Linked DNA regions of Homo sapiens. The protein of the gene in region 2 interacts with the protein of the main gene of each other region in a biochemical or structural test. Each region holds a gene or a part of one and is shown on either strand. Other genes may lie near its edges. The genes, in order: RACGAP1 and SLC26A8.

What was found.
Region 1: the proteins of SLC26A8 (region 2) and RACGAP1 form a complex in vitro, tested with the Homo sapiens proteins (one study listed by BioGRID).

Annotation. Positions count from the first base shown.
Region 1 is NC_000012.12:50,018,811-50,022,734, forward strand, and holds part of RACGAP1 (rac GTPase-activating protein 1), read right to left. Parts: intron 2,368-3,924; exon of another isoform or gene 2,252-2,367; intron 997-2,251; exon of another isoform or gene 934-996; intron 1-933.
Region 2 is NC_000006.12:35,947,964-35,951,887, forward strand, and holds part of SLC26A8 (testis anion transporter 1), read right to left. Parts: intron 3,537-3,924; coding exon 3,482-3,536; intron 3,385-3,481; coding exon 3,200-3,384; intron 1-3,199. UniProt on the Homo sapiens protein: Antiporter that mediates the exchange of sulfate and oxalate against chloride ions across a membrane. Stimulates anion transport activity of CFTR.

The DNA.
Region 1 (3,924 bases), on a different chromosome or scaffold from region 2:
ATTACAATATAACCTGTTCTCTTGTCCATTTTTTTTTTTTTAATTTTTTGAGACAGAATCTTGCTCTGTCCCCCAGGCCAGAGTCCACTGGCGCCACCTCAGCTGACTGCAACCTCTGCTTCCCAGGTTCAAGTGATTCTCCGGCCTCAGCCTCCTGACACTGTTCTACTCTTCCTGTTCATGTCCATCAACTACGCTACTCACTGACCTACCCTATCCCATACCCTACTGACTTCCAATTTTGATTTCCCTATTTTTATCATTCTCTCAGTCGCTCAGTTCCAAACTTCAGAATCACCTCTGGTTCCTCCCCTTCCCACAGCATAATCACTAAACCTTGTGTACTCTTCTCTCATGTATCTACCATACCCACCCCCTTATCACTTGCAGGTTGTCACCACTCACTTCAATTGCACTCCCTTCCTCCAGTCCTTCCCCTACTGCTTCAGGCAGTTGCCACTCAGATACAAACTCTTTGCACTTGAATTAAACTTTACCATATGATTCTGCCCTGTGTCCCAGCTAGAATATAAATTTGAGGGGAGAAACCTTACATGCGGCACTACTATATTACACACACAAGCATGTAGCATTTAATATGATGCTCACAAAAAAAAATTGATAAGTGTTAATTCAGAGAACAAACACACACATATCTGTGATGCTATGGTCAAAAGAATTTCCATTCTACCTCAACATCAACGTGTAATATAGTTTAAAGCAAAAAGAACAGTTAAAAGCGGGAGAGGGAGCAGAAGTCCTGGGACAAGATGGGTGTGGTGGTGCGTGCCTGTAGTCCCAGCTATTCAGGAGGCTGAAGTGGGAGGATCACTTGAGTCTAGGAGTTTGAGACCACCCTGATCATCACAAGACCCCCTTCTCTTAAAATAAATAAATAAATAAATAAATAAATAAAAAGGTCCTGGGACAAACCTTTAGCTCTTCTATCTACCAGTAGTATAATCTTCAGTAAATCACTTAAATTCCATGACTCATCTATAAAGTGAAAACAATAACACTTGCTCTATTTACCTCATAGAATATTACAAAAATTTTAAAATGTATAAGTTTACAATCTCACTACCAAAATATAAGGTATCTTTTAGTTGGTATGAAGTGAGTTTCTTTTGTTTAGGTTTGGTTTTGGTCTGATAGTTGTTACTTCCATCCTAAAACAGTGATTCTCAAATCTAGGTGTTTTCCCCCCTAGGCTGTCTCCAAATAAGGATATCAGTAAATTCAGAATTTTAGACCATTTTTAAAAATAATACTATACAATTAGAAAGAAAAGAATCCAGTATTTACTAGGTGCTTTGAAATGATTCGGGCACTAAACTAGACACTTCACGTACACTTTTTCTTTAAGTGAATTTGACTTTTTTTCTGAGACGGTGTCTTGCTCTGTCACCCAGGCTGGAGTGCAGTAGCACCATCTCGGTTCACCGCAACTTCCATTTTCAGGGTTCGAGTGATTCTCCTGCCTCAGCCTCCCGAGTAGCTGGGATTACAGGTGCCCACCACCAGGCCCAGCTAATTTTTTTTTTTGTATTTTTAGTAGAGATGGAGTTTCACCAAGTTGGTCAGGCTGGTCTCGAACTCCTGACCTCTAGCAATCTGCTTGCCTCGGCCTCCCAAAGTGCTGGGATTACAGGCGTGAGCCACCATGCCTGGCCTCACTAACTTAATTATCTCCATTTTACAGACAATGGGCAACTAAGTCCAGAAACCTTAAATTAACCAATAAATGTCGAGTTCTCATTGAAACCCAGGTCTGAGTCCAAAATCTATATTCTCTCCAACCCAACACATTGAAGAGATAAGTTACAAAAATATCAATTAGACCATATATGTTGCAGACCTACTCAGAGACCTCCTGCAAACCATAACATGTCATACAAACAGCAACACATATAAAACACAAATTATAGCTGGAACCCAGACCAAGAAGAATCAAGGAAACAGCAAAATTTGGCCAGGTCTAGGCTTTTAAACAAGCTGTTCTAGATGAGGTTTGCTGCTTCTGAAGAGTTATTTTTTCCTCTAACATAGATTTACTTAGGGTAATCCAAAAATGGCACTAGCAGAATATAATCCTCTTCTCTTTATATGCTAGGGGACCATATATTTTTATTAACATTCTACAGAAGTGACTCTCAGGAATTATTTATAGATGACAAAAATATCTTTCTATATCAGTACTAACTCTGATATCTCAGCCAAATTGTAACTCAAAAAGCTAAAATTTACTCACCCTATTCAACGTCAATTGAAAATAGTTGTAATTTTCCTGCTGGGTCACATTTTCACCCTCATGAATACTTGTTTATTTCCCCCCATGTATTATTTAGTCCATAGCTAGGAGATACACTAATGTGAAAGGAAACAAAAACAAAGTCATATTGTAGTACATTGCTTTTGCAGCTGTAAAACAGCTGTCACTTTCCACAACAGAGACTGCTGCCTTTTCGGGAAAGCTGAAACGATCCCTGCGTGCAGCAAGAAACTCAGTTTGTGGAGCACTTTAAACCAAAAGGTGCTAGAGAATCTCAGCTGTTATTGATGGGGAACCCCAGAGGTGGAGAAGTCAGTATGTTACAGATTCCCAATCTGTGAGTATCCCTAAGGGAGCAATCTGGAAACACCATGAAAGAGTCTCAGCTGGATGTGATTGCTTTGAGCCCCCAATTTAATTTCAATCACCCAGCCAAGAGGTAGATATCATCCTTCAGAAAAACAGACTATTACAGATCTTACTGCAGGGTATCCTGGGAAAAGTCTCTATCCTCTTCTTCCTCCTCCTTCAAACAACATTATTAAGAGACCTATATATCAGGTTTTTTAGATGCATCAAGGGTGTTAAATACTTTAAGACAAAGCAATGAAAGGTTGCTGGAGTTTTTCAGGAAAGTGTTTTAATGAAAAACTTTCCCACAAACATTGCTAAATCTGGAGATTTCCAAGAAATCAACAATATAGATTCCCTGCTGTCAAGGAAAACCATTCTCAAAGATAATCTCAGTACTTTAAGATCCTTTCATAGGAACACATTTGAGGACAATGTGAGGACAATTCTTTTCCTGAAATGTCCAGCTTCTGCTTCACTGTATCGAAAGTCTCTAATACAACTGGCGGACAGAAGGATTATCTTGAAACCAAATGTTCTTTATAAGCAAATCACTTGCAGAGAGTAAACAAAATGTTCTCAATCCAACATGAAGACTAAAATAAGGAAGGGAAGATTTGAATTGTGATTTTTCAGAAAATTACTAGAAGTTCAGCATACTGAATACCTCTTTTTTTCCCTGTGAATTCTTCCTATTCTGGTCTTCCATCCTTCAAGGTCTAGAATAAGTCTCACCAATTCACTGAAGCCTTCCCTAACCATTTCAGTCCAAAATGATTTCCTTTATTATCTATAACATTCATTTAGCAGATACAAAAATACTGTTTATTATTAATCTTCTATGTTCAAAAAGTTAACAGTAAAACAGGCTAGGTGTGGTGGCTCACGCCTGTAATCCCAGCACTTTGGGAGGCTGAAGCAGGTGGATGACCTTAGGTCGGCAGTTTGAGACCAGCCTGATCAACATGGAGAAACCCTGTCTCTACTAAAAATACAAAATTAGCCAGGCATGACGGTGCATGCCTGTAATCCCAGCTCCTCAGGAGGCTGAGGCAGGAGAATCGCTTGAACCCGAGAGGCAGAGGTTGCAGTGACCCAAGATGGCGCCATTGCACTCCAGCCCGGGCAACAAGAGTGAAACTCTGTCTCAAAAAAAAACAAAACGAAAACAAAAACAAAAAATTAATAGCAAAACAAAAATCTCACTATCCTAAACAACTATATGTACCATCTGATCTAATCTTTGCCCATTTTACACTCTTATTTCATGGTGTTACAATCATACATTACATATAATTTTG
Region 2 (3,924 bases):
TAAGATTTTCCCATGTGAAGAAAGTCACAAAACCTTACTATGAATGAAACATTTAAGAAGACAATAAATGTAGAGACAGTTCATGTTTCTGGATAAGAAGAATGAATACTATAAAGATATAAATTCTCAAGGGATTTTATATTTTTAATACAACTCTAATGATTATTTCAATAAGATTTGTTTTTGTGGGGTGGGGACCTGACAAAAGATTCAAAAGTTGGTTTGGAAGAATAAATTGGTGAGAATGACTTAGCAAATTTTGAAATAGAACACTGATGACATAGGACTTCTTAACCAAATGTTAAAGTGTATTATACAGCAATACTAATAAAAACAGTGTGATGGCTAGGCACGATGGCTCACATCTGTAATCCCAGCATTTTGGGAGGCTAAGGTGGGCAGATCACCTGAGGTCAGGAGTTCGAGACCAGCCTGGGCAACATGGTGAAACCTCGTCTCAAATAAAAATACAAAAATAAGCCAGGTGTGGTGGCGCATGCCTGTAAGCCCAGCTACTCAGGACGCTGAGGCAGGACAATCACGTGAACCTGGGAGGCGGAGGTTGCAGTGAGCCGAGATTGTGCCACTGCACTCCAGACTGGGCGACAAAGTGAGACTCTGTCTCAAAAAACAAAAACAAAAACAAAAAACACTGTGATACTGAAGCTATACAGAAAAATGACATCCACAACTAAACTAGAAATACACTTTAGTTTTCATAAGAATATAATATTTTATGAAAATAACATATCAGTAGGGGAAAGAAGGCTTATTCAATAGATGGTTGGATGGTGGTATGATTTGCATGAGTGGCTTCCAAAATCCATCCACATTGTGGTGGTATTAAGAGGTGAGGCCTTTGGGGAGTGATTAAGTCATAAGGGCTCTGCCCTTGTGAATGGATTAGTGCCTTATAAAAGGGCTGGAGGGCTAGCATAAACCCTTTTGTCCTTCCACCTTCTGCCATGTGGGGATGCTGCTGAGAGAAGATGGAAGAAGCCCTCAGCAGACACTGAAACTGCCAGGACCTTGATCTTGGACTTCTCGCATTCAGAACTGTGAGAAATAAATATCTATTATTTACAAATTACCCAGTCTCAGATATTTTGTTATAGTAGCACTAATGAACTAAGATAGATGGCATATAGCCCAAAATAGTTAGCTACATAGATAAAAAATAAAGATTAAGCCTGAGTGCAGTGGCTCATGCCTGTAATCCCAGCACTTTGGGAGGCTGGGGCGGGTAGATCATGAGGTCAGGAGTTCAAGACCAGCCTGGCCTACATAGTGAAACCCTGTCTCTACTAAAAATATAAAAATTATCCAGGTGTGGTGGCGGGCGCCTGTAGTCCCAGCTACCTGGAAGGCTGAGGCAGGAGAATCGCTTGAACCCAGGAGGCAGAGGTTGCAGTGAGCCGAGACCATGCCATTGCACTCCAGCCTGGGTGACAGAATGAGACTGTCTCAAAAATAAAAAAAAAATAAAGATTACCCTTCAATACCTGTATACTGAAATACATTCTATTTACATTAAAGAGTATAACATATAAAAAATAAAAACATAAAAATCTAGAAAATGTGTCTTATTTACCTTCTAAGAGGGAATGACTTTCTAAATAAAAAGTAAATATAATAAGAAAAGGAAACATTAATAGATATGACTAAATATGTAAAAACAAATATATCGAGTATCATAATTATAAATTAAAAAATAGAGAAACTTCCATTTATAGTAAAAGCAGACTGCATAATTCAAACCAATTAGTTAGTCATTACTAATTATTAACTACTAGTTAACTAGTTGTTTTTTTATTAACTACCAGTTAACTAGTTGTGTGTGTGTGTGTTTTTTTGTTTTTTTTTTTAGAGTCTCACTCCGTCGCCCAGTCTGGAGTGCAGTGGCGCGATCTCGGCTCACTGCAACCTCTGCCTCCTGGGTTCAAGCGATTCTCCTGCCTCAGCCTCCCAAGTAGCTGGGACTACAGGCGCGTGCCACCACGCCCGGCTAATTTTTTTGTATTTTTAGTAGAGATGGGGTTTCACCAGGATGGTCTCGATCTCCTGACCTAGTGATTCGCCTGCCTTGGCCTCCCAAAGTGCTGGGATTACAGGCGTGAGCCATCTCGCCCGCCCGTTGTACGGTCTTAACTGTTTCAGATGTGGTGTCTCATTTCATCAACTAGGCTTTGTTTAATAATGATTTCTAGTCATTAGATAATATTAGATAATATTTTAGTGCCCATCTGTTTTAATTTCCTTTTTTTGTTTTTGGAAACCTTTAACCTACACAGGTACTGATTTGAAAATGCTAAAGTAGGCCCAGGTCTCAGTATTTTTTTTTTTTTAGACAGAGTCTCACTCTGTCGCCCAGGCTGGAGTGCAGTGGCGTGATCTCAGCTCACTGCAACCTCTGCCTCCCGGGTTCAAGCAATTCTGCCTCAGCCTCCCAAGCAACTGGGACTACAGGTGCCCGCCACCATGCCTGGCTAATTTTTGTAGTTCTAGTAGAGAAGGAGTTTCACCATGTTGGCTAGGATGGTCTCGAACTCCTGATCTCATGATCTACCTGCCTCGGCCTCCCAAGGTGCTAGGATTACAGGCGTGAGCCATCGCACTCAGCCAGGTCTCAGTATTAATAAAAGGCTGAAAATTCAGACTTATATATTATTCTCCTTTGCATTTGGTCAGCTTGAGTAAATCTCATACCACAACAATGTAAAGGTAATAAAGCTGAGGTATTAGACAAGATTATAGATCTGAATCTCTGCTAGTTCATTAGTATTATTATTCATCCCAAGAGTGGGTGGGGTGGGGAGGAATTCTAAAGGTATAGCTAGGGGAGACATTTAGAATATTTAGCAACTGGTAATAGACACTAACCAAGAATGCTGTAGAAGGATCCTTGAGGTCTGTGCTGGGTTGGGCAAACCCTCTCTTCAGTTAGGGAAATTTCTTGAATGGAACCCTGATGCCATGACAGTGAGGGCACTTGGCTGCTCAGATCCACTGCTATTTACCAAGTGGTAAGGGTGCATTTCAACATCCCAGATTCTGGTACAGCCATACTAAATACCTTTCCTGGACATTATTCCTCTATCTGATCAGGAATCCTGACTCCCAGCCCCCAACCACCCCTCACCCATCCCCCCACTGCCCTCAATCCCTTCCCCCAACCTCATGCTTTGTCGGTTTGTCTGACCTTGTCTGTTTCTGAGTAGGTTTCCCGTATCACTGTCTCGGATTCATCGATGCTTAACTCAGAGGAGCCTATGACCTTCCTTGACAAGGCAAACAGCACGGCGTCGTGAACGCTGAGGAACAGCTGGGTCTTGGTGATGCCAGCGTCAAAGAAATCATTCCTCTCAAATGCCCTGACTATGGAAGCTAAAAACCAAACCCAGAACACACACAATGTCAGATACTTGGGGAGCAGAGGACCCAGGGTGCAAAACAGCCCTCTCATAGGGTGAAGGATACTCACAGTGACACCCTGCAATGAGTATCAAAATGTTGGCGTTTTGAAAGGCATTGCATATCTGTGGGGGGAGAGAAAACCAGTATCAGAAGGCTTTATACTTGCTAGGAAAGGCCTTCTAATTAGCTAAGTTTTTGTCTTGTTTTGTTTTGGTTTTTTGTGACAGAGTCTCACTCTGTCACCCAGATGGAGTGCAGTGGCATGATCTCGGCTCACTGCAACCTCCGCCTCCCAGGTTCAAGTGATTTGTCCACCTCAGCCTCCCAAGTAGCTGAGACTACAGGTGCATACCACACGCCTGGCTAATTTTTGTATTTTTAATAGAGACAGGGTTTCACCATATTGGCCAGGCTGGTCTCAAACTCCTGACTTCGTGATCTGCCTGCCTCGACGTCCCAAAATGCTGGGATTACAGGCGTGGGCCACTGCACCCAGCCAATTAGCCGAGT